Linked DNA regions of Homo sapiens. The protein of the gene in region 1 interacts with the protein of each later gene in a pairwise test. Each region holds a gene or a part of one and is shown on either strand. Other genes may lie near its edges.

What was found.
Region 2: the proteins of CIB3 (region 1) and ZNF146 interact in binary tests that used the Homo sapiens proteins (3 or more experiments, as listed by UniProt).
Region 3: the proteins of CIB3 (region 1) and ZNF317 interact in binary tests that used the Homo sapiens proteins (3 or more experiments, as listed by UniProt).
Region 4: the proteins of CIB3 (region 1) and GMCL1 interact in binary tests that used the Homo sapiens proteins (3 or more experiments, as listed by UniProt).
Region 5: the proteins of CIB3 (region 1) and ZNF835 interact in binary tests that used the Homo sapiens proteins (3 or more experiments, as listed by UniProt).
Region 6: the proteins of CIB3 (region 1) and ZNF597 interact in binary tests that used the Homo sapiens proteins (3 or more experiments, as listed by UniProt).
Region 7: the proteins of CIB3 (region 1) and TRIM2 interact in binary tests that used the Homo sapiens proteins (3 or more experiments, as listed by UniProt).

Annotation. Positions count from the first base shown.
Region 1 is NC_000019.10:16,163,526-16,167,025, forward strand, and holds part of CIB3 (calcium and integrin-binding family member 3), read right to left. Parts: intron 1,389-3,500; coding exon 1,193-1,388; intron 1-1,192. UniProt on the Homo sapiens protein: Acts a an auxiliary subunit of the sensory mechanoelectrical transduction (MET) channel in hair cells. Plays a role in regulating hair cell MET channel localization and function.
Region 2 is NC_000019.10:36,221,606-36,225,105, reverse strand, and holds part of ZNF146 (zinc finger protein OZF), read right to left. Parts: intron 1-3,500.
Region 3 is NC_000019.10:9,143,397-9,146,896, forward strand, and holds part of ZNF317 (zinc finger protein 317), read left to right. Parts: intron 1-3,500. UniProt on the Homo sapiens protein: May function as a transcription factor. May play an important role in erythroid maturation and lymphoid proliferation.
Region 4 is NC_000002.12:69,832,660-69,836,159, forward strand, and holds part of GMCL1 (germ cell-less protein-like 1), read left to right. Parts: intron 1-3,500. UniProt on the Homo sapiens protein: Possible function in spermatogenesis. Enhances the degradation of MDM2 and increases the amount of p53 probably by modulating the nucleocytoplasmic transport.
Region 5 is NC_000019.10:56,665,258-56,668,757, forward strand, and holds part of ZNF835 (zinc finger protein 835), read right to left. Parts: intron 1-3,500. UniProt on the Homo sapiens protein: May be involved in transcriptional regulation.
Region 6 is NC_000016.10:3,437,005-3,440,504, reverse strand, and holds part of ZNF597 (zinc finger protein 597), read left to right. Parts: intron 1-2,966; coding exon 2,967-3,500. UniProt on the Homo sapiens protein: May be involved in transcriptional regulation.
Region 7 is NC_000004.12:153,210,943-153,214,442, reverse strand, and holds part of TRIM2 (tripartite motif-containing protein 2), read right to left. Parts: intron 1-3,500. UniProt on the Homo sapiens protein: UBE2D1-dependent E3 ubiquitin-protein ligase that mediates the ubiquitination of NEFL and of phosphorylated BCL2L11. Plays a neuroprotective function. May play a role in neuronal rapid ischemic tolerance.

The DNA.
Region 1 (3,500 bases):
GCCTGGGCAACAGAGCAAGACTCCGTCTCAAAACAAACAAACAAACAAAAAGAAACATCACTGTGTACCCCATGAATATGTACAATCATTATTTGTCAATTCAAAAAATAAAAAATAAAGTGAAATTTAAAAATTATAAGATAATAATAGCAACAGCAATTTATTAAACACCTATTGTGTGCCAGGAGCTGTGCTGAATTTTCTCCATATATTAATTTGGGGTTCAGCAAACCTTTTTCTGTAAATGGCCAAATAGTTGATGTTTTCAACTTTATACCATGACGCAACTCTGTTGTTGAAGCACACAAGCAGCCATAGACAAAATGTACACAAATGGGTGTGGCTGTGAGCCAATACAACTTTACTGATGGACACAGAAAAGTGAATTTCGTATCACTGTCACGTGTCATGGAATAATCTTTTTTTAAATTAAAAAAAAATTTTTAATGTGTTTATTTATTTTTGAGACAGAATCTCACTCTGTGACCCAGGCTGGAGTGCATGGCACAATCTGAGCTCACTGCGGCCTTGACCTCCTGGGCTCAAGCAATCCTCCCGCCTCAGCCTCCCAAGTAGCTGGGACTACAGGCATGCACCACCATACCTGGCTATTTATTTATTTATTTATTTGTAGATATGGACTCTCCTTATGTTCCCCAGTTTGGTCTCAAGCTCCTGGGGTCAAGAGATCCTCCCCACTTAGCCTCCCAAAGTGCTGGGATTAAAGGCATGAACCACCCCACCTGGTTGGAATATTATTATTCTTTGATTGTTTTTTGATCTTTTGAAAATATAAAAGCCATTCTTAGCTCACAGGAGGTACAAAACCAGGCTTTGGGTCAGACTGGCCTATTGGCCGTACTTTGCCCTGCAGTGGCGGCTGATTTTCCCCAAAGGCTGCCAAGTACAGTTACACAGTCTGTTCACTGCAAACTGTTCAGGCAACAAGGGCTGAAGTCCAGCCACATTCTGCTTGCTGAAAGAGGTGTATCCACTCGCAAGAGGTGCCCAGGGGGTCCCTAATTATCCCCATTTTACAGATGCAGGGACTGAGACTAGGGAAATTGAGAAAGTTTCCCAAGGTCATGAAAGAATGAATAGAGGAATTTTCAGAAACAGAGTCTGTGAACTGTCTGCGTAAGAGCCCCTTCAGATGTGCAAATGGACTGTGGGCGGTGACGGAGAGCATCACCTGAGGAAGTCTGGTGCCCGGAGGATCATGTTCTGGAAATCTTCCAGGGACAGCCGCCCATCATGGTCTCCATCAGCCTCATCCAGCACCTTCTCACATACCAGGCTCACCTCCTCGGCACTCAGCCCCCCCCGCGTCAGTTTGGTCACCGTCTGCTCCAGGTCCCACGCACAAATGTAGTCGTCGTTGTTAAAATCTGCAGAGCAGGATGGATGGGGAGTGACAGCAGGTGGCAGGAGGGCTAGGCCGGCTGTGGGCACATACTGTGCCCATGTTACAAGAAGGGGAAACTAAGGTCGGGCACGGTGGCTCACGCCTGTAATCCCAACACTTTGGGAGGCTGAGGAGGGTGGAACACCTGAGGTCAGGAGTTCGAGACCAGCCTGGCCAACATGGTGAAATCCCATCTCTACTAAAAATACAAAAATACCCAGGTGTGGTGGCATGCACCTGTAATCCCAGCTATTCAGGAGGCTGAGGCAGGAGAATCACTTGAGCCCGGGAGGTGGAGGTTGCAGTGAGCCAAGATCTCACCACTGCACTCCAGCCTGGGCAGCAAGACAGAAACTCCGTCCAAAAAAAAAAAAAAAAAAAAGGAACTGAGGCCCTGGGAGGGCACCCGAGACCCTGGTGTAAAATCTGGAACTTGCCTTAAAATTGGGCAGGGACCTGCTGGGAGTTCATTCATTCATTCAACAAGTATTTATGCAATGAATTTTTCATTCGTTCTTTTTTTTTTTCTTTGAGACGGAGTCTCGCTCTGTCGCCCAGGCTGGAGTGCAGTGGCACGATCTCGGCTCACTGCAACCTCCACCTCCTGGGTTCAAGTGATTCTCCTGCCTCAGCCTCCCAAGTAGCTGGGATTACAGGTGCCTGCCACCATGCCCGGCTAATTTTTGTGTTTTTAGTAGAGATGGGATTCCCCATGTTGGCCAGGCTGGTCTCAAATTCCTGACCTCAGGTGATCCACCCACCTCGGTCTCCCAAAGTGCTAGGATTACAGGTGGAAGCCACCACACCCAACCTCATTCATTCATTTTTACAAGCATTGAGTGCCTGCTGTGTGCTAGGCACTGTAATAACTTTTTTATTCACTCATACAAGTATTTATTGAGCATCTACTATGTGTCAGGCATCACAGTAACTGATTTTCATTCACTCACTCACTCAACAAGTATTTATTGAGTGCAATTTTCATTCATTCACTCACTTAACAAGTATTTATTGAGTGCCTACTGTGTCCTGGCACTGTGATAATAATTTTTCATTTACTCATTCAAAAAACAGTTATGGGCCCGGCGCAGTGGCTCATGCCTGTAATCCCAGCACTTTGGGAGGTGGAGATGGGTAGATCACCTAAGGTCAGGAGTTCCAGGCCAGCCTGGCCAACATGGTGAAACCCCATCTCTACTAAAATTACAAAAATTAGCGGGGCGTGGTGCGGGTGCCTGTAATCCCAGCTACTAGGTAGGCTGAGGCAGGAGAATCGCTTGAACCCAGGGAGTGGAAGTTGCAGTGATCTGAGATCGCGCCATTGCACTCCAGCCTGGGCGACAAGAGTGAGACGCTGTCTCAGTAAAAAAATAAATAAATAAAAATAGTTATTGAGTGCCTACTATGTGCCAAACACTGTGACAGCTCTTTCATTCATTTATTCAAGTATTTCTTGAACACGTACTACGTATCAAGCACCATGATATCTGTTTTTCATTTATTCACTCACTCAACAAGTATTTATTGAGTGCCTACTGTGTAGTGGGCACTGTGATAACTTTTTTCATCTATTCACTCAAAAAGTACTTTTTAACTGCTTACTGTGCACCAGGCACTGTAATAACTTTTTCATTTATTCATTCATTCATTCATCCATTCAGGAAGTATTTATTGAGCACCTACTACATGTTGGGCACCATAACTCTTTTATTCACTCACTCAACAAGTATTAGTGTCTACTGTGTGCCAGGTACTCTGATAACTTTTTCATTCATTCATTCATGCAACAAGTATTTATTGAGCACCTACTATGTGTTGGGCACCATGATAACTATTTTTCATGTACTCACTCAAAAAGTATTATGGTGGCAGGGCACGGTGGCTCATGCCTGTAATCCTGCCACTTTGGGAAGCCGAGGTGGGTGGATCACTTGAGGTTAGGAGTTCAAGACCAGCCTGGCCAACATGGTGAAACCCCATCTTTACTAAAAATACAAAAATTTGGCTGGGCGTGGTGGTTCATGCCTGTAATCCCAGCACTTTGGGAGGCTGAGGCGGGTGGATCACCTGAGGTCAGGAGTTCGAGACCAGTCTG
Region 2 (3,500 bases), about 20 Mb from region 1:
GTAAAAACACTGAAAAGCAAATCATGATAATAAAAGTAATAGAAAAACACTGAAGGCATTTCTATTAGATTCTAAACAGACAAGGATGCCTACTGCCTCAATTATATAATCTAATTACAAATAACTAAGGAAAGCAGGGAATAATATTAGTATGTAGAAATCAACAGCTTCATATATGCCAACAATGACTCCATTCATAGCAACATAAAACAAAACATCCAGAAATAAACTTAGTAAGAAGTGTCCAAACCTGTATGAAAAAAATTTTAAAACACCCTAGAGGACCCAAAAAGAAACGAGAATACGTATCACGTACATAAAGAGGAATATTTAATGTCATAAAAATGTCCCTATTCCCAAGTTATTTTATAAATTTAATGCAATCCCAATAAAAGTAACAAACTAGTTCTACCTTTTCCCCCTCTGGAACGAGACAAGCTAATCCTAAAATTTACAAAGAAAAATAAACAGGCAAGAATAGCCAGGAAACACTGAAAAGGACGAGCAATTAAGAGACTAGCTATACCACAAAGTAAAACACAATGATAAAGCCTCAATAGTAAAAAGATAAATATTTTCCCTGGTTGTTACACCTGGGCTATAGCAGTGTCCTCAGTCTTTCTGCTCACACCCAGAAACAGACCAAATAAATGTGAGAATTTAGTATATAATCAAAGTGGCATCCTAAAAATAGTAAACATAAGACCTTTTTTTAATGTGTGTGAGATGGAGTTTGGCTCTTGTTGCCCAGGCTGCAGTGCAGTGGCACAATCTCAGCTCACTGCAACCTCCGCCCTCCTATGTTCAAGCGATTCTCCTGTCTCAGCCTCCGAATAGCTGGGATTCAGGCATGTGCCACCACACCCAGCTAATGTTTTGTATTTTTAGTAGAGACAGGGTTTCTCCATATTGGCCAGGCTGGTCTCGAACTCCTGACCTCAAGTGATCCACCCACCTTGGCCTTGCAAAGTGCTGGGATTGCAGGCGTGAGCCACCGTGCCCAGCCAGGTAAGACCTTTTAATAAATGATGTCAAAGAACGTGGTAGCCAATTGGAAAAAGGTAAAGCTGGATGCATATCTGATAGCATACACCAGGATAAAATCTAAATGGATTATAAATTAAAATAAAAACAAAATCTTAAAAAAACTATTGCTCTGACTTGGGAAGCCAAGGTAGCAGGATCACTTGGGCCCAGGAGTTTGAGACCAGCCTGGGCAACACAGGGAGATCTTATCTCTACAATTTTTTTTTTTTTAAATTAGCGAGGATATGAAGGCTGCAGTCAGCTGTGATCACGCCACTGCACCCCAGCCTGGGTGACAGATCAAGATCCAACTCTAAAACAATCAAACAACAAAAAACTGTAACTTTATAAGAATTTGAAAATATCGGTGAAACTTAAGAGTGGAAAAGTCTGATAACCATAAAAGACTGATGAATCAGCCACGCGCGGTGGCTCACGCCTGTAATCCCAGCACTTTGGAGGGCCGAGGCGGGCGGATCACGAGGTCAGGAGATCGAGACCATCCTGGCTAACATGGTGAAACCCCGTCTCTACTAAAAATACGAAAAAATTAACCAGGCGTGGTGGCATGCGCCTGTAGTCCCAGCTACTTGGGAGGCTGAGGCAGGAGAATGGCGTGAACCCGGGAGGCGGAGCTTGCAGTGAGCCGAAATCGCACCACTGCATTCCAGCCTGGGGGACGGAGAGATACTCCATCTCAAAAAGAAAAAAATGTAACTAGATTTTTTTTTTTTTTTGAGACGGAGTCTCACTCTGTTGCCCAGGCTAAAGTGCAGTGGTGTGATCTCGTGCACCACAATGACTGGCTAAATTTTTTGTATTTTTAGTAGAGACGGGGTTTCACCATGTTGACCGGGCTAGTCTCAAACTCCTGACCTCAAGTGATCTACCCGCCTCAGCCTCCCAAAGTGCTGGGATTACAGGCGTGAGCCATCGCGCCCAGCCAAAAGTTTTGAAAATAAAAAGAAAACCATAGCAGCATGGTGGTGCACTGCCTGTAGTCCCCGCTACTTGGGAGTCTGAGACTTGCTTGGGCCCAGGGGTTCAAGGCCAGCCTGTGCAACACAGTGAGACTGTGCCTCTAAAAAATACATGAATAAAAAGGTCTTTGGTGTGGTGCGGGGATGTCTCTGTGCTCACCAACCACAGGGGGCTCATTCTAAGCACGGCTATGTAAAAAAAGAAACTATTATTACTAAATTAAAACAAAACCTCTTATTTCTGCAAGATTAAAAAAAAAAGAAACCACTGTGAACAATGTCCAAATGCAAATGAAAACTTCAAAAAAAAAAAAAAAAAAAGCCACCACTCATTTCATACAGGGCTAACCTTTCTAATTTATAAACAGCTCCTCTAAGGAGAAGACACCCCATAGAAAAATGGTGAAAAGGATATGAATAGACAGTTCCTAGATTAATACATACAGGCCTTTAAACATATAAAAAAAAATTCTCATTCATAAGAAGGGATGTAAATGAAACCTACACTGAAGTTCAGATTGTCTCTTATGTCCCTAGCGAAATACCAAATATTCGACACTACACTCATGGTGAGTTTAAGGGGAAGACGCTCTCGCACATGGCTTGTGGGAGTGTAAGTACTTACCCACTGGGCAGCGCCATTTGTATTAATAGCAGTCTAGTTTAGAGCTACTCCTGTGTCAGTATAAAATGGCGCACATAAAAAAATTATTCATTACTGCATTGTTAGCAACAGCAGAAGACTGGAAACAATCCAAATGCTCAACAACGGGATTAACTGAATCAACCATGGTGCATCCAAATAATGACATCTTATTTATACAGCAGCTGAAAAAAAAATTTCTTTTAAAGATTATGATTAAGAAGGAACACCTTGGCTGGGTGCAGTGGCTCACACTTGTAATCCCAACACTTTGGGAAGCCAAGAGAGGAGGACTGCTTGAGCTCAGGAGTTCGAGACCAATCTGGGAAACAGTGAGACCTCATCTCTACAAAAAGTAAAAAAGCCAGGTGTGGTGGAGTGTGCCTGTGGTCCCAGCTACACAGGCGGCTGAGGCAGGAAGATCACTTCAGCCCAGCAGTTGGAGGCTGCAGTATGCCATGTTAACACCATTGCACACCAGCTTGGGTGACAGAGCGAGACTATTTCAAAAAAAAAAAAAAAAAAAAAAGAAAGAAAAAAGGAAGGGCTATCTCTAGGACATACTGTTATTAAAGAAAGTGAGATATAGGGAGGTGCATGTGGTATGCTATCTTTTATGTAAGGTGGAGGGAAACAGGAGTGAAGAGAAATATATAATAGTGACAGAACAAAAAACAAAAAACCCACTTGAAGGATAAACAAGAAGCAAACAAAAAAAAACAAGACATGTTTACATAAGACAAAGAAGAATGTGACTGGGGGAAGGGAGCAGAATGAGATATCTCTGTGAGATAGATCTTTGTTGAATCACAGAAATGCATTACTTACTTCAATAGTAATCAAATTCATTT
Region 3 (3,500 bases), 7.0 Mb from region 1:
TCTTTCCAGTTTCTTATGTTGAATGCCTGTCACATCCCAAAGAATTGCAGTATCATACTTTATTGTATTTTAATTATAAATATCAAATATCATGGCTTCTTTGGCATGCAGATTTAGAATTTTTTTCTTTTAATTTTCATTTCTGTGACTTTTTTTCTGGTTATCTTTTGGTCATTGTTTGCCAACTGCATTGCTCTGTGGTCAAGCATTTTCTGAGACAAACATGGCCCCATGAGTGCTGTCTCATCATGTTCAATCTGCACATAGTTATTGAACTGCCTGCTTAAACTGGATTTGTGAGAGCTCTGGTGGTGGCTTCATCCATTTCTCCTTAGAATTCTGTCCCCCCTTTTTTTTTTTTAATTTTTGTGTTTTCCTTTTTTTTGAGGCTGTGTTTTATACACACAGGCACACACACACACCTCTTTTTGGATTTATAACTTTTTATTATGTAATACTTCATTTTTCTCTATGAGCCTTTTTGCCTTAATCTATTCTGTCTGATACTAACATTCAAACCAGCTTTCTTTTTTTTTTTTTTTACTTGCCTTATATATCCTTTTATTTCCATTCTTATTGTACTCTTTTTTCTTTCTTTCTTTCTTTCTTTCTTTCTTTTTTTTGAGACGGAGTTTCACTCTTTTTGCCCAGGCTGGAGTGCAATGGCGCGATCTTGGCTCACTGCAACCTCCACCTCCTGGAATCAAGTGATTCTCCTGTCTCAGCCTCCCAAGTAGCTGGAAGTACAGGCGCATGGCACCACACCCAGCTAATTTTTTTATTTTCAGTAGAGATGGGGTTTCATCATATTGGTCAGGCTGGTCTCGAACTCCCAACCTCAGGTGATCCACCTGCCTTGGCCTCCCAAAGCATTGGGATTACAGGCATGAGCCACCGCGCCCGGCTCTTATTGTATTCTTATATTTTAGATATCTCTTGTACGTAGCATATAATTGGATTAATCTATTCTGTGAATATTAGTATTTTAGTTAAAGCATTTATTCTGTTAGCATCTTCTGTATTAATATATTTGAATGTTACATTTGTCTTCTGTTTTTTCTCTAGCTTCTTTTGTGTATTTTTGTCATTCTCCTTTTTTATTTTCTGTACATTTTGAATTTATTTACTCTATTATTTCAGTGGTTGTTCTAAATAATTCTTACCCATGCTCATTCACTAAATCTAGATTTGCATATGTTACTCTCCTGATTTACATGGTTTTCTTATGCATTTTCATTCTTTCTTTATTGATATATCATAGTTGCACATATTGAGTTCTTTTTTTAAACCTCAGAAGAAATTATTATTGCTATTGCATACCATCATTTCTTGTTTCATTATACTCACATGTTTATCACTTTGAGCACTTTACTTGGTTCTTACACTTTTTGGTGTAATTCTTCCACTGTTTGCTTTGGTTCTTTAATTACTTCTTTCTCCCTGAGGTATGTCTTTGATGATGTCTCTTTTCTGTGGGTTGCAAGCCCACAGGAACTTTGTTTTTTGGTGCTCAGAAAACACCTCTTTCTCTCTTTCTCAGTGGACATTTTTGGTGGTAATAGAATTTTATATTTCAGAACTATGAAGATGTTCCATTATCTTCTGGCTTCCACTGTTAATGATGAGAAGTCAGCTGTCAGTCTAATGTTTGTTTGTTTGTTTTCTGAGACAGAGTCTCACTCTTGTTGCCCAGGCTGGAGTGCAATGGCGTAATCTCGTCTCACTGCAACTTCTGCCTCCTGGGTTCCAGCAATTCTCCTGCCTCAGCCTACTGAGTCGCTGGGATTACAGGCATGGGCCATGACACCCAGCTAATTTTTGTATTTTTAGTAAAGACAAGGTTTCACCATGTTGGCCAGGCAGCGGTTTTAGGAGCCTAGAAATGTGAGTTTTTCGTTTTGTTTTGTTTTGAGACAGGGTCTTGGTATGTTGCCCAGGCTGGTCTCGAACTCCTGCGTGCAAGTGATCCACCTGCCTTGGCCTCCCAGCATGCTGGGATTACAGGTGTGGGCCACCATGCCCAGGCTTACTTTGTTTCTTAATGGAGAGATATTTACGGTGTGTTTTAACAAGACCTCCAGGTGACTCCCATGTAACTTAAAGTTTGAGAACTATTGCTTAAAAGGTAACCTGTCTTTTTCTCCTCTGGCTGCTGTTCAGATATTCTTTTTACCGTTGGTATTATCTGGTTCATTGTGCTTAAGATTTTATCTCTCTTCAATCTGTTTATATTTTCCTTCAAAATGAAAAATCTACAGCCACTATATTTTGCAGTGATTGCCTAGGCTCCTTCTCTGTCTCTCATCAGTAACTCCAGTTAGAAATGGTTCAATTCCTTATCTTCTGCCCCCACGTGGTTCTTAGCTGTATTTATGTTCCTCAACTCTTTTTCTGTGCTTCCCTTGCATTTATTGCTACAACTGGCTTTGAAACTTCAGCCTTCATAAAAATTTCATGTAGAGTTTATTAAAATACTGATTCATCAGCCCACCCCAAAGAGAATTGAACTGAGATATGATCTGGGTGTCAGAGTTACTTAAAGTGTTCCAGGGGACGCTTATGCAGCAGACTATATTTAAGAAACAAATTATTATTATTATTATTATTATTGGCTGTGTATAATCTAAAAGCTATTTACTTAGGGCTTTTGTTGTGGGTTTCCATTTTGCTTTTTTTTTAGCAATTGTAATTGCCCTTTAGAAATCATAAATTTTTAATTTTCTGAATGTTAATTTCTTGCCAGCACATGAATTTGAAACCTATCATCTGTCTGTACTTTGTGTTGCATTTGAAATAGTTATGCATGGAAGGTTTAATTGGGGCACCTAGGTTGCTTGTTGGAAACAGAATTCCTACCCTGCTCCCCACCCCCTGGGACATCTCATCTAGCTGGTTGAAAGGAGGGTATATTGATTTACTAATGTAATGCATTTCTGGACCAAGAAAATGGCATATGATGTTCTCACAACCTTTGTTGCCTTCTCTGTCTCTCGCTATATATATATTGTATATATTATTTATATACTTTTTTTCTTTTTTTTTTTTTTGAGGCAGTGTCTCATTTCTGTCACCCAGGCTGGAAGTGCAGTGGCATGATCTTGGCTTACTGCAACCTCCGCCTCTCAGGTTCAAGCAATCTTCCCACCTCAGCCTCCCAAGTAACTGGGACTACAGGCATGTGCCACCATGCCTGGCTAATTTTTTTGTATTTTTAGTAGAAACGGGGTTTCACCATGTTGGCCAGGCCAGTCTTGAACTCCTGACTTCAAATGATCTGCCCGCCTCAGCCTCCCAAAGTGCTGAGATTACAGGCATGAGCCACCATGCTGGGCCTATATTTACGTGAATAACAGTGGTAGAAATGGTTCTAGCAAGGGCAGAAATACCAGTCAGTAAAAGTAACAAAATAATTATTCTCTCTACAGTATTTACATCTGCAAATTCTGAATATCCTGGGATACTGTGATTAAGTTGAATATGGGGATAAAATCAAATATTGG
Region 4 (3,500 bases), on another chromosome or scaffold:
TAAACAGCATATAGTTGAGTCTTGCTTCTTTTGTCCAACAGGACAATCTAACCTTTCAATTAGTAGTTAGACCACTTATATTTAACGTAATTATTGAAATATATGTCACAGTGCATTTGAAGGAGAGAAATCACACAGCAATTTGAATACAGGAAATTTAATATAAACATTATTAACAAGGCACAGAGAATTAACTACTGAGGACAAAACGCTAAGGTAAAGAGATCCCTAGAAAATACATGTAGTAGTCAGTACTTCTAAGGCTGAGGCAGAATAGCCACAGAAGGAACAAATTTGGAATAGGTGCCCCCACCCCTTTCCCAAGCTAAGATTCAGATGATGTTGAAGGAGGTGTGGCTGTAGCCCACTGGATGGTGGAAAAGTTTGCTCAAGTGTGGTAAGCTGAGGCTGGCAAGTAGGACACTGCCTACTAGGATGCCAACAAAATTATTTGGAGGCCTTTTGGCCCAGAAGGCTAAAGATATTTACTATCTAGACCTTTACAGAAAAAGTGTACCAACTCCTAGACTACATGAGTGGACTGGAATGGAAAGTTTTTAAGGCAAACCTTTATCGGAAAATGCATATCAGAATTTAGTGTCTGTATATTACTGGAAGATGCTTGGATTATTCAGCCCAATACGGATGCAGGGTGTAAGAAAATACTAAGACGGGCCAGGCGTGGTGGCTCACGCCTGTAATCCCAGCACTTTGGGAAGCCAAGGCAAGCAGATCACTTTAGGCCAGGAGTTTGAGACCAGCCTGACCAACACAGTGAAACCCCGCCTCTACCAAAAAATACAAAAATTAGCCAGGCTTGGTGGTGCACGCCTGTATTCCTAGCTACTTGGGAGGCTGAGGCAGGAGAATTACCTGAACTCAGGAGGCGGAGGTTGTAGTGAGCCAAGATTGCGCCACTGCGCTCCAGCCTGAGCAACAGAGTAAGACCCTGTCTCAAAAACTAAACAAATAAAAATTTAAAAGAGAAAGTATTAAGATGTTGAATTTTGTGTGTTGGCCCTAGTATATACTTCCTGAGGTTGTCTGGTGTGCTCTCCCACATCAACAGACCACTTTATGAGAAGTTTTAGCTTTTAGGCCCAACTTCCACCTCATACCTTTGTCAACTGCATGTTCTACTTTTACATTTACGAGACTGTTAAAACCCACACTGTTCTACAACCAGATCTTGAGTGTTTTGTCCGTAGCTTGTCTCTAAAAAATTGAAACGACATTACATAGTTATAACTAAGTAAATATTGTTTCAGAAGAGTTAAGTAGTATGCTAGGATTATAAATCATACTTGATGGGTCCAGTGTCACAACTGCTTGTCTGTTCAAAGGGAGAAATTTTTCTAACCTCACAGTCATATGGAATCTTTTCTTGTATTCCATCAAGTGCTTAAAGTCAGGCCCTGCTTTTGTTTTTATCTTATTTGGACAGTGCCTTTTTTTGTATTGCTTTTTTATTGTCCTAGAGTTTATAATGGCCTTTCCCCCACTCTTGTCAAAATAACAATATTCCTTCATCATGGCTTCGGGTTTTTCTGAAAAAACACAGAAAAGTCTTTTGAAACACACTTTCATGGAATCCTTCTCTAAAACCTAGACCTCTTCCATCCTCCTGTTCCAATCTGGATTTGTCTACTCTTATGCTGGGACTTACTTTCACCCCATCTCTAGGATTGAATCCACTATTTTGTGTAGCCTGCATTTCTTTCTCGCTTATTTTAGGAACTATTTAATACATCCTCAAGTATTTTCCAAGGAAGGGTGCAAAAGGGGGTAATTTGTGCGTATCTAAATATAAATTTAGTCTCTTTTACTTTATTCATCCTCTGACTGGGTATGGAAATCTAAAGTAACTTTCTTCATATCTTTGATGACGCTGCTTCATTGTCTTCAGGCCTACAGTCTTGATGAAAAATTTGATTCTGGTGTAATTCTCTTTTCAGGTGACCATTTTTGCTCTCTGGAACTTGTGGAACTTTTTCTTTGGTATTTTGGGATTTAATTAGAATGTGCTTAAGTGTGGGTCTTTTAATGGCCTTGGTACTTGTTGGATCCTTATAATCTGGAGACTCATATACTACCTTAGTTTTGGGAAATTTTTTTCCATTAATTTCTTCCATAATTTCCTTTCGCTTCTTATCTTTATTTTTTCTTTCTGGGATGCCTCTTAACTGGATTTTGGATTTCTTGGATTATGCCTGTCTCTTCTTTTTTCCTTTCTTTGTCTTTTTGCTTTATGTTCTGGGAAATTTCCTTTAACTTTTTCATCACTATCATTAGGTTGTTTGGCCCTAACTATGAGGTATTTCTTTTGGACCAGGGGTGAAAATTACTAAAATATGAAATGTGCTGTGATCCATGAAAGCTTGGGAACCTCTGCTCTACAAAGCATGCCCCACCTATAACCAACTTCGTAGTCTTCTTACTCAAAGAAGAGGTACCTTGGAAATAGATCTATTTACTCAATTAAAACACCATACATCAGTTATTCATTCTTAAATATAAGTGGACAAGCAAGGAAGGATCACCCAACATGAGGAAGAAAAACAAACAAACTATTCTTTGGTTTATTTGTTTTTTTAAATTTCAGTAATCATGTCTTTAGTCTCTAAAAGCTCTTTCTTGTTCTGAGTGATCCTTTATCATAGCAGTCTATGGGGTAAATATAATAATCTCAGATCTCTAGGTATACTGGTGAGAGGGTGTTTTTTTCCTCTCTTTTCCCTGAATTATATGTTTCCAGGGGTGGAGGGAGTCTCTCTGTCTCTCTGATATGCTCTTATTCTTCCTCATGGTGGGTGATCCTTCCTTGCTTGTCCACTTATATTTAAGAAGGAGTAACTGGTGTATGGTGTTTTAATTGAGGAAATAGATCTATTTCCAATGTACCTCTTCTTTGAGTAAGAAGACTACGAAGTTGGTTATAGGTGGGGCATGCTTTGTAGAGCAGAGGTTCCCAAGCTTTCATGGATCACAGCACATTTCATATTTTAGTAATTTTCACCCCTGGTCCAAAAGAAATACCTCATAGTTAGGGCCAAACAACCTAATGATAGCAGATTGCATGGTATCTGAAAGATGTTACTGTGTTTCCTTCGAATTTAAAATACTCCACATGCCTCTCTGAGTTGGCTGTGGTGCTCTAAGTTCAGATGGTATCCTGAACTGGTGAATTTCACACACGGTTTGGGAACCATGACTTAGGGTGAATGGATTGGGAGTGAACAGGCCACAGATTCTTTAAATTTCAGAATGAGGATTGCTTTGTCTGGGCACCAGCAGCTACACTACAGCCTTAGATCTTCCATTAGCTTTGTGCTATTTCTAGAAAAACCTTGGAATCTTTTTGCCTCAGTATCTGTACTCTCCTTATCTATACTCTGTGTTCATAGAGTGGAGAAGGCACTAGTTTCCCCATTTTCTGCCCCTCTTCTTACTTCTGCCTTTGTTTCCCTGAGACCTCATCCTTCTTTTCTCCCAAGGGTTCT
Region 5 (3,500 bases), about 41 Mb from region 1:
AGATAGAAAAAAAAATTAAATGTTGCCACTTGTCCTGAGCTGGAAAAATGGCTAACAGCTGAACTGGTAAGAACTTAGCATGGGGTCCCTGGACCTCTGTGCCAATGACATTTTGGGTCCAATAATTTGGTGTGGTGGGACCCATCCTGTGTGTTGTGAGATGTTGAGCAGCGTCCCTGGTCTCTCCACACTGGCTGCCAGGGACACTACCCCTCAACCCCTGAGTTGTAACAATGAAAAATGTCTCCAGGCCGGACGTGGTGGCTCATGCCTGCAATCCCAGCACTTTGGGAGGCCAAGGCAGGTGGTTGCTTGAGCCCAGGAGTTTGAGACCAGCAAACTGTCTGCTGCCTGGGCAACACAGCAAGATCTCATTTCTACAAATGAAAAAAAAAATTAGCCAGGCATGATGTTGTGCACCCGTGGTCCCAGCTACTCAGGAGGCTGAGGCAAGAGGATCAGCTGAGCTCAGAAGGTTGAAGCTGCAGTGAGTAGTGATCACACTACTGCACTCTAGCCTGGGTGACAGTGTGAGACCCTGTCTGAATTTTCTTTAAAAAGTCTCCAGACACTGCCAGGTGTCCCCTCCCCTGGGGACAAAATTGCCCCCAGTTGGGAATCACTGACTTAATGGAACTAAAAACAAATTTAAAAGATCCCTGAAAAAGAAAAAAAAAGCATGAATCTGTCAGCTCTTAAAATATGGCCCTGTAATCTGGTGCTGTGAACTGAATTGTGCCCCCTCAAAATTTATACATGGAAGCCCTAACTCCCAAGGTGATGCTTTGTGGAGATGGAGCCTTTGGGAGGTGATTAGCTTTAGAGGGGGTCATGAGGGTGGGGCCCCCACAATGGGACTGTTTTATTTTTTTTTTGACATGGAGTCTTGCTCTGTTGCCCAGGCTGGAGCACAGTCTTGGCTCACTGCAACCTCCGCCTCCCGGGTTCAAGCAATTCTTCTGCCTCAGCCTCCTGAGTAGTTGGGACTACAGGTGCACGCCACCATGCCCGGCTAATTTTTGTATTTTTAGTAGAGAGGGGGTTTCACCATATTGGCCAGGCTGGTCTCAAACTCCTGACCTCAGGTGACCCACCCACCTTGGCCTCCCAAAGTGCTGGGATTACAGGCGTGAGCCACCGCGCTTGGCTGGGACTAATGTTTTGATAAGAAGAGGAAGCGACACCAGAGCTCGCTGTCTGTCAGGTGAACACATGGCAAGAAGGCAGCCGTCTGCAAGCCAGGAAGTGAGTCCTCAGTGTGGTCTGACCATGCTGGCACTCTGATCTCAGACTCCCAGCCTCTAGCACTGTGAAGAAATAAGTGTTTATTGCTTCAGCCACCTAATCTGTGATTTTTTTTGTAAGCTGGAGCTAAGATAACTGGAAAGACAGTTTTCTTTTCTGGGGAAAAATCAGTTGAAACTTTAATTCCCAGTGTGACAGCGTTTGATGTGGGGCCTTTGGAGGATGATTAGGTCATGAGGGCATCCTCCTTAATAGGATTAGCGTCCTTATAAGAGGAGACACCAGGGGGCTCACTTACTCTCTGCTCTCTCTGTCCTCTCTGCGTGTGAGGACACAGGGAGAAGGCGGCCATCTGTAAACCAGGAAGAGAGCCCTCACCAGACAGAATCAGCCAACAGTGATCCCAGATTTCACATTATGGGGACACTATTCAACTCACTATGCTCCCCTTCTACAGGGCTCCATCAGTGAAGGAGCTGCCCAGGGTCTCCCAGGCTCAGAGGTTCATGCTGGCTCGTGGGCCCAGGGTCGTTAGAGATGGTGATCTCAAGCTATTGCAGGTTACCCTGTCTGCTTTGCACATTTTCAGTGGAAAGCAGGGATCTGTTTTTATATGAGCCCAGGAAGTCACTGTTTTTTAGAAAGCCATAACAGAAGCCATACATATAGTTACTTCTAGTGGGGCTGTGATGCTGAAGGATTTATACCAATTGCCTGGTGTACACTGGACCTGCACGCTGGCGAGAAACTCACCACTGACTTCTGATGCTTTAGTTCTAACAGAATGGGAAGACAGATGGACAAATGACCTCCTGGTGCTGAGAGAGGGAAGGAGGCAGCTGCCTGTGGATCCACTGTGCTGGGGCTAGCCCCAGAGGAGGGGGCTCACACTGCTGGGAGGTCCTTTCCAGGCTGTGTGGCTGCAGGTAAGTGGCTACCTGCTCTGAGGCTCTGCCTGGTTTTCTCTCTCTAAACAGGGCTCCAGCCTCCCCTTCTCCCGAGGGACATGGCAGGTCTCTCAGCAAGCTTGGCCTCATGTTATGTGTGGGCTCAGCCCCTCACACACAGGCATTCCCTGAACCAACTAGTAGGCTGTGTGCATACAGCAGAGAGTGCTCGGCCTTTGGCTCCTCCGGGTACACTCCTGCTGCTGCTGGACAGGCTACGTCTGAAGCTTGTCCTCCCCACTTCCTGTGTGAGATCCTAACCCTTTGTGGTGGTGCTAGGAGGTGGGGCCTCTGGGAGGTGATGATGACATGAGGCTGGAGCCCTCAGGCGTTGGATTCCTGCCCTTATAAAAGAGGACCCAGAAGGCTCCCTTGCCCCTTCCTCCAAATGAAGACACAACAAGAGGGCCCGGTCTATGAACTAGGAAGCAGCCCTCACCAGACACCAAACCTGCCGGCACCTTGACCTTGGACTTCCAGCCCCTAGAACTGTGTGGAAATAAATGCTGTTTCTTTCTTTCTTTCTTTTTTTGTTTTTTTGTTTGTTTGTTTTGTTTTGTTTTTGAGATAAGAGTTTCGCTCTTGGTGCCCAGGCTGGAGTGCAGTGGCACAATGTTGGCTCACTGCAACCTTCACCTTCCGGGTTCAAGCGATTCTCCTGCCTCAGCCTCCTGCATAGCTGGGATTACAGGCATGCGCTACCATGTTCAGCTAATTTTTTGTATTTAGTAGAGATGAGGTTTCACCATATTAGTCAGGCTGGTCTCAAACTCCTGTCCTCAGATGATCCACCCACCTTGGCCTCCCAAAGTGCTGGGATTACAGGCATGTGCCACTGTGCCCGGCCAATAAATGCTGTTTCTAAGCCACCAGAGTATGGCATTCCGTCACACCCCAAAGGACCTAAAATAGGGCTTTTTTTTTTTTTTTTTTTGAGACAGGGTCTTGCTCTGTTGCTCAGGCTGGAGTGCAGTGTTGCAATCATAGCTCGCTGCAGCCTGGGAATCCTGGCTCAAGTGATCCTCTCACCTCAGCCTCCCAAAGGGCTTGGATCACAGGCAGGCACCACCAACCACACCTGGTCAAGACAGGGCTTTTGTGTGGGCTATTCTTTCTGCCTGACATGCTCTTCCCGCAGCGTGTGCCTCAGCAAGAGGACAAGAGGAGACCCTGAGGGAGTGATGATGTTTGTGTTCAGGGTGGAGAACACAGCAAGTGCAAAGGTCCCAGGGCAGGATGGTGACAAGGGTGGCAGAGGAAAGGTAAAGGGGGTGGGGCTGGACAGAGCAACTGAGGTGCAAGGCAGGG
Region 6 (3,500 bases), on another chromosome or scaffold:
CTGCCACCATGCCCAGCTAATTTTTTGTATTTTTAGTAGAGACAGGGTTTCACCGTGTTAGCCAGGATGGTCTCAATCTCCTGACCTTGTGATCACCCGCCTCGGCCTCCCAAAGTGCTGGGATTACAGGCATGAGCCACTGAGCCCGGCCGAGATGATCTCTTAAAGACAAAAATTCAGTCTAGTACAGTGCCTGTGGTTTAGTACAAGAGATGGCAGTATTTGGTAATCTTTCACAAACATTTGTTGCAGTTTACAATTTTACTTGGGAAATCCCATTAGTATCGATCACTATCATTTGCTAAAGACTGGAGATTGATTTACTCTTAAGGGGTGCTATGCCTTACTCACCTAAGGGGAACCATACACAGATGGACTCCTGTGCCTGACTAGATTTTATTTCTGACTAGGATTGAGTATCTAAACTATCTATTCTAAGTAGTTATTCTAAATAGTTTGGAATAGTTGAGATACTCAATCCTAGTCAGAAAAAAATAACTAGAGTAACTAGTTATTCTGAATAACTCATATTTTGTTTCTTCCACTTCTCTCTTCATCATGTTCATGTTGTCTTCTGTCTGCGTAAATGTATGGAGTATATTTATAATGGTTATTTAAACTTTTTTTTCTTGCTAGTTTTAACATTGATGTCATTTCTGGGTCTGTTTCTATTGATTGATTTGTCTTCTAGTTATGGGTTATATTTTCTATATTTTCTTTACTTCCTGGGTAAATTTTGGTCGGATGTTAGATTAAGAATTTTATGTTGTTGGACCCGGGATTTCGTTGTATTTTTAAAAATATTTTGGACTTTGTTGTGGGAGGCAGTTAAGTTACTTGGAGTCAGTTTGACTGTTTCAAGGTGTGCTTTTTTTTTTTGCTTTGTTAGGATAGGTTCAGATCAACCTTTCTGCTAGGACTTATTTGAGTTACTGCTAAGGCAGTTTTTTTCTGTGGACGTTGCTGCTCAATGTCTTATGTCTTTCCACTTTGGCTGGAGGCAACATGAACTGGTTATTGCTCTGTTATTCCTTTTAGGTGGTTCTTTCCACGGCATTGGGTAGTTTCTTCATGCACTTGTAGATTACTACTCAGCCAAAGTTGTGGGGTTATTTTTTTTTTGATACAGTATCTTGATCTGTCACCCAGGCTGGAGTGCAGTGGCACAATCACGGCTCACTGCAGCCCTGACCTCCCAGGCTCAAGCAGTCCTCCCACCTCAGCCTCCCAAGTAGCTGGGACTACAGGCATGCACTACCATGCTTGTCTTTTTTTGTTGTTTTTTTTTTGTAGGGATGGGGCTTTGCCATGTTGCCCAGGCTGGTCTCGAGCTCCGTGGCTCAAGCAATTCTCCCACCTCAGCCTCCCAATGTGCTGGGATTACAGGTTTGAGCCACTGTACCTAGCCTCAGGAAAGTCTTAAGGGGACCCCATGTAGATGACCTGAGCTCTCTTTCTGAACAGCTGCCTCTTTGCTGTTTTGCTTTCAAATTCTAGCTGCCTTGGCATCCCTGATCTCTGAACTCAGTCCCCTCAAATCAGCAAAACCACTTGGTACTGTTTGGATTCCCATGAACTATACTGCAGCCCTTTCTAGTCAGTGAGTTGGGAAAACTGTAGAACTTTGTTTCTCTGGAAAGAAAAGTTCCTTTTGTATTGATATATTTGCTTTATAACTGAAGAATACTTGGAAAATATTACACAGGAATGTTAGTTTTGTCAGCCATTCTTGTAAGTAGATTGGCTGTTATTTTCATGCAGTACACACAGCCTTCTACCTTGATCTTTCCTCAGTGAGGAGTAAAGAGATTTTGGAGAGTTCTCCTGGTGATAATAAAACTATTTCTGATAACCCGTGTGTTTCTTTGTTATGGAAGAAAAATGCTCACTTGATTGCTTTTTTTTCTTTTTTCTTTTTTAATTATTATTATTATTTTTTTTTGAGACAGAGTCTTGCTCTGTCGCCCAGGCTGGAGTGCAGTGGCGCGATCTCGGCTCACTGCAAGCTCCGCCTCCTGGGTTCACGCCATTCTCCTGCCTCAGCCTCCCGAGTAGCTGGGACGACAGGCGCAGGCCACCACGCCCAGCTAATTTTCTGTATTTTTTTTTAGTAGAGATGGGGTTTCACCGTGTTAGCCAGGATGGTCTTGATCTCCTGATCTCGTGATCCACCCGCCTCGGCCTCCCAAAGTGCTGGGATCACAGGTGTGAGCCACCGTGCCCAGCCTCTTTTTAAAAATTATTTTCTTTCCCACTCATTCTTGCTGTCATCTTTTTTTTTTTTTTTTAAGAAACAAGTTCTGGCTCTGTCACCTAGGCTGGAGTGCAATGGCACATCTCAAACTCCTGAGCTCAAGTGATCCTCCTGTCTCAGCCTCCTGAGTATCTAGGACTATAGGCATGTGCCACCATGCCTGGCTAATTTTTAAAAATTATTTTTTGTACAGATGGGGTCTCACTGTGTTGCCCAGACTGGTCTCAAACTCCTAGCCTCAAGTGATGCTCCCACCTCAGCTTCCCAAAGTGCTGAGATTACAGACGTGAGACACTGCCCAACCCCTCTCTTTGTTGATAAATATGAATCCTAATCTTTTTTCCAATTGTTAATTGTTCTGCTGTCACTTGAGATAGCTTCAAAAATGAAAGGCTCTTGAGGCCTAAATAGATTAGATGGAAAAGTTCACCTCTAGATAGCTGCTACTGAGATTGTCCTTAGTACCTATCCCACTGGACTCTGACTTAGTTATAGCTATTCTCTCCTTACCTTTGGATATTCACCCAAAACTGGATCTTCTGGGAGGCCAGGAGAGTCTGCTTGGTCCTGATTTTGTGTGGTTAGTGTCTGGGTTATAGAATAACCCTTCTAAGGTTTCCTGGTCCTGTTTGTAACTACCTTAGCTTACTTTTTCCCCAGTATCCCTTGAAGATATTGTCTATGTTTTGCTTTCTTTTGTTTTTATCAACAGGAGAGGAAGGCAAGCCTGAGATTAATCAGCAGTTAAGCCTAGAGTCTATGGAACTTGACGAGCTTGCCTTAGAAAAGTACCCCATTGCTGCACCCCTTGTCCCTTACCCAGAAAAATCCTCTGAGGATGGAGTTGGAAACCCTGAAGCGAAAATATTAAGTGGAACTCCCACTTACAAGAGAAGGGTCATCAGCCTTTTAGTTACCATTGAAAACCACACCCCATTAGTAGAACTCTCTGAATATTTAGGAACCAACACACTTTCTGAAATTCTTGATTCTCCCTGGGAAGGAGCCAAAAATGTGTACAAATGTCCTGAGTGTGACCAAAACTTCAGCGATCATTCATACCTAGTTTTGCATCAGAAAATTCATTCAGGAGAGAAAAAACATAAATGTGGTGACTGTGGAAAGATCTTCAATCATAGAGCCAACCTGAGGACACACAGGAGAATCCATACTGGTGAGAAACCTTATAAGTGTGCCAAGTGCAGTGCCAGCTTTCGCCAGCACTCTCATCTATCCCGACACATGA
Region 7 (3,500 bases), on another chromosome or scaffold:
TTCAGCATATTAGATAGTTCCTCTTAAATAAAACTTGCATTTTAAAATGGACAGAAAAGAGTTTGACCCTCTTAATCTCTTAAATCCAAGCTCTCCTCAACACTATGCAGGTTATTGGAGGCTATGCTGGTCAGGTTTTACTGCCCAGGGACTTAGAGGGGCATCTCCATTTATCAGTGGCTTATCTAACTTTTAGAGTCCTTGATCAATTACACAGTGCTCATGGAAATGCAAATGAGCATGATCAATCAGTGTTATTGAAAAGCACTTTTGTAAGATGTATCAAAAACCTTTTAAATGTTTATATCTTATGCTCTAGTAATTTCACTTTAAAAATCTTTCTTCTTGAGGTACAATCAGAGGTGTGGTCACAGATATTGTCTAGACACTATCATAAGAGTACCAGCTCTGGGTTTCAATGCCAGCCCATCCACTTTTTTTTTTTCTTTTTTCCTCACTATGTCTTATGGTGCTAAGCTGCCACTTTCTAATTGTGCAATCTGGAACAAAATATGTAGCCAACTGTCCTGTGCCTCGTTTCCCTCTTCTGTTAAATGGTAATAATAGTAGGTTTGTTACAAAGATTAAATTCGTTAAATAGTAATAATAGTAGGATTTGCCAGGCACAGTGGTTCACACCTGTAATCCCAGCACTTTGGGAGGCCGAGGCGGGTGGATCACCTGAGGTCAGGAGTTCAAGACCAGCTGGCTAACATGGTGAAACCCGTCTCTACTAAAAATACAAAAGTCAGCCAGCCATGGTGGCATGCACCTGTAATCCCAGCTACTTGGAAGGCTGAGGCAGGAGAATTGCTTGAACTCGGGAGGCAGAGGTTGCAGTGAGCCAAAATCGTGCCACTGCACTCCAGCCTGGGCGACAGAGCGAGACTCTGTCTCAAAAAATAAATAAATAAGTAAAAAATAATAGTGGGATTGCTACAAAGATTAAATTAATTAAGATGCATAAAGAACTTGAAACAGAGCCCATCACTTTGTTAGCGATTCGACAAATGTTAACTATCATTATAAGCTATTATTGCAAAAACATTCATTGCTGTATTATTTGTGATAGAAAAAAATTGAAACAAGTTAAATGAACAGAAATAGAAGCATGAAGACATATTTTTGCACATTCATGCAAAAGAATATAATGTACCCTGGAGGCATCACATAATGGTTAAAAACACAGGCTCTGGAAACTGAATGCTGGCCTGCCCCTGACCAGCTGTGCGGCTTGGGACAATTTTCTCAACAATCTGAGCCTCAGTTTCCTCACCTGAAAATGGAGAAGAACAGTAATAGTGGGCTGACTGGCTCATACACATAAAGCACTTAGAACAGTTCCTGGCACACAGTCATTGCTTCATCAGTTAGTCTCTCCACTTACAGTCAAGTTGGTAGCCTGGCAGACTGGTGATATCTCATGCACACAAAGCTTCCCAGGCAGTAGCTGTGAAAGTACATGCCCTGGTAGGAGATGAACTGAACAAAGCCTAAATTTCCCTTTGTATGAATAGACAAAATGACTGATGCAAGCCCAGGCCTGGAGGCTACGTGCACAACCACCATGCAAAGGAACTGGAAAGAGTTGTTTCACTGCAGTACCAGAACAGACTGCTTTGATTAAGAGAAAAAAGAAAAGGGAATAAAGAAGACAGGCCCCCAAACAAAACCACCCACCAAAGCCACAAACAAGACTTGGCAAGAGAAAGGAGCTGAAAAGGCTTTCCTAAATCTCCAGTCTGCATCCACCTCTTTTCTTTTTCTTTCTTTTTCTTTTTTTCCTAGAGACAGAGTCTCACTTCGTTGCCCAGGCTGGACTGCAGTGGTGCAATCACAGCTCACTGCCTCGAACTCTCAGGCTCAAGCAATTCTCTCTCCTCAGCCTCCTGAATAGCTGGGACCACAGGCATACACCACCACGAGTGCAGCTTTCTTACATGGAAATATTGCGTAATGGTGAAGTCTGGGCTTTTAGTGTACTCATCATCTGAGTAATGTACATTATATCCAATAGGCAATATTTCATCCTTTATCCCCTTCCATCTTCCCACCTTTTGGAGCCTCCAATGCCTATTATTCCACTCTCTATGTCCACATATACCCACTGTGTACCTCCCACTTATAACTGAGAACATGCAGTTTTTGGCTTTCTGTTTCTGACTCATTTCACTTAGGATAATGGCCTCCAGGTTCATCCATGCTGCTGCCAAAGGCATGATTTCATTCTTTTTATGGCTGAGTAGTATTCCATGGTGTATATGTACCACACTTTAATCATCATCTGTTGACAGACACTTAGCTTGATGACTTTGCTAAAGGACAGCTTTATTTCTCATAAGGGTTGAAGCCTGCAGAGAGGCCATTCTGACAGGCTGGGAAATGTAGCCTACCGCCAGAAGCTAGAAGCAAGCACTTCCTCCTCACTGAGTTTTTGAAAGACTAAGGGAAAGAGAATAGAGAAGGGATATTTCCATCTACCGGGGAAAAGATGTGCAGTAACAAACCATCTTGGGAGACAGCCTTCTCACAGATTTAGAAAAGTATATTTAAATTTTGATGAAACTTTTCAAGTATTAAAGTTTGAGTTACAAGCACAAGAGAGGATAAAACAAATCCAAGCAGAGATTCAAATTGTCATATAAGAATTTGTAGGCTGGGTGAGGTGGTTCATGCCTGTAATCCCGCACTTTGGGAGGCCCAGGTGGGCAGAGTATTTGGGCCCAGGAGTTCAGAGACTAGCCCAGGCAACATGGTAAAATCCCATATCTACAAAAAAATAAAAAATAATTAGCCAGGCATGGTGGTGCATGCCTGTAGTCCCAGGTACTTGGGAGGCTAAGGTGGGAGAATCACCTGTCTGGGAGGTGAAGGCTGCAGTGAGCCATGATTGCACCACTGCACTCCAACCTGGGCAACAGTGTGCAACCCTGTCTCAAAAAAAAAAAAAAAAAGAAAAAGAAAAAACAAAAAAGCAAGCAGGCAAGCAAAAACAAACAAACAAATGAACTAAGATCTGCTCCCATGTTACCCCACCTTGCTCCTAAAGGTTGGATGTAGTTTCTTTTATCAAGGAGCAGGTTTACAACCAGCCTTGGAAGCCTGGAAGGTATTGAGATGTTTCTCTGACCCAGTAACCCCAATTCCTAGAAAGGACAGGGATCAGCAGTCACTACACTCTTCTTCCACCCAGCCCTGTCCAGAGCTGACCTCAGGTTACCTCACTGTCAGCAGCACCCCCTTCCTCAAGGACCCTGCCCCCAAAACCACACCTGGAAGCTTGAGACACCACCAGGTCGGTGTGCAGATGGCCGCTATGGATTCCTAGTGAGCATGGCTTGTGAGAAAAAAAGGCAGCCTCATATTGGAAGCCTGTGTTTCCTGAATGCCCCTGGACAGTGATGAGGAGGGGTGGGTAGGCTGCCATTGCCCCATCCCCTGTCTCCTCCCAGCCCTCCAGTGACAGCTCAGACAATGGTGCCCTGCATGTCTGGGTTTAC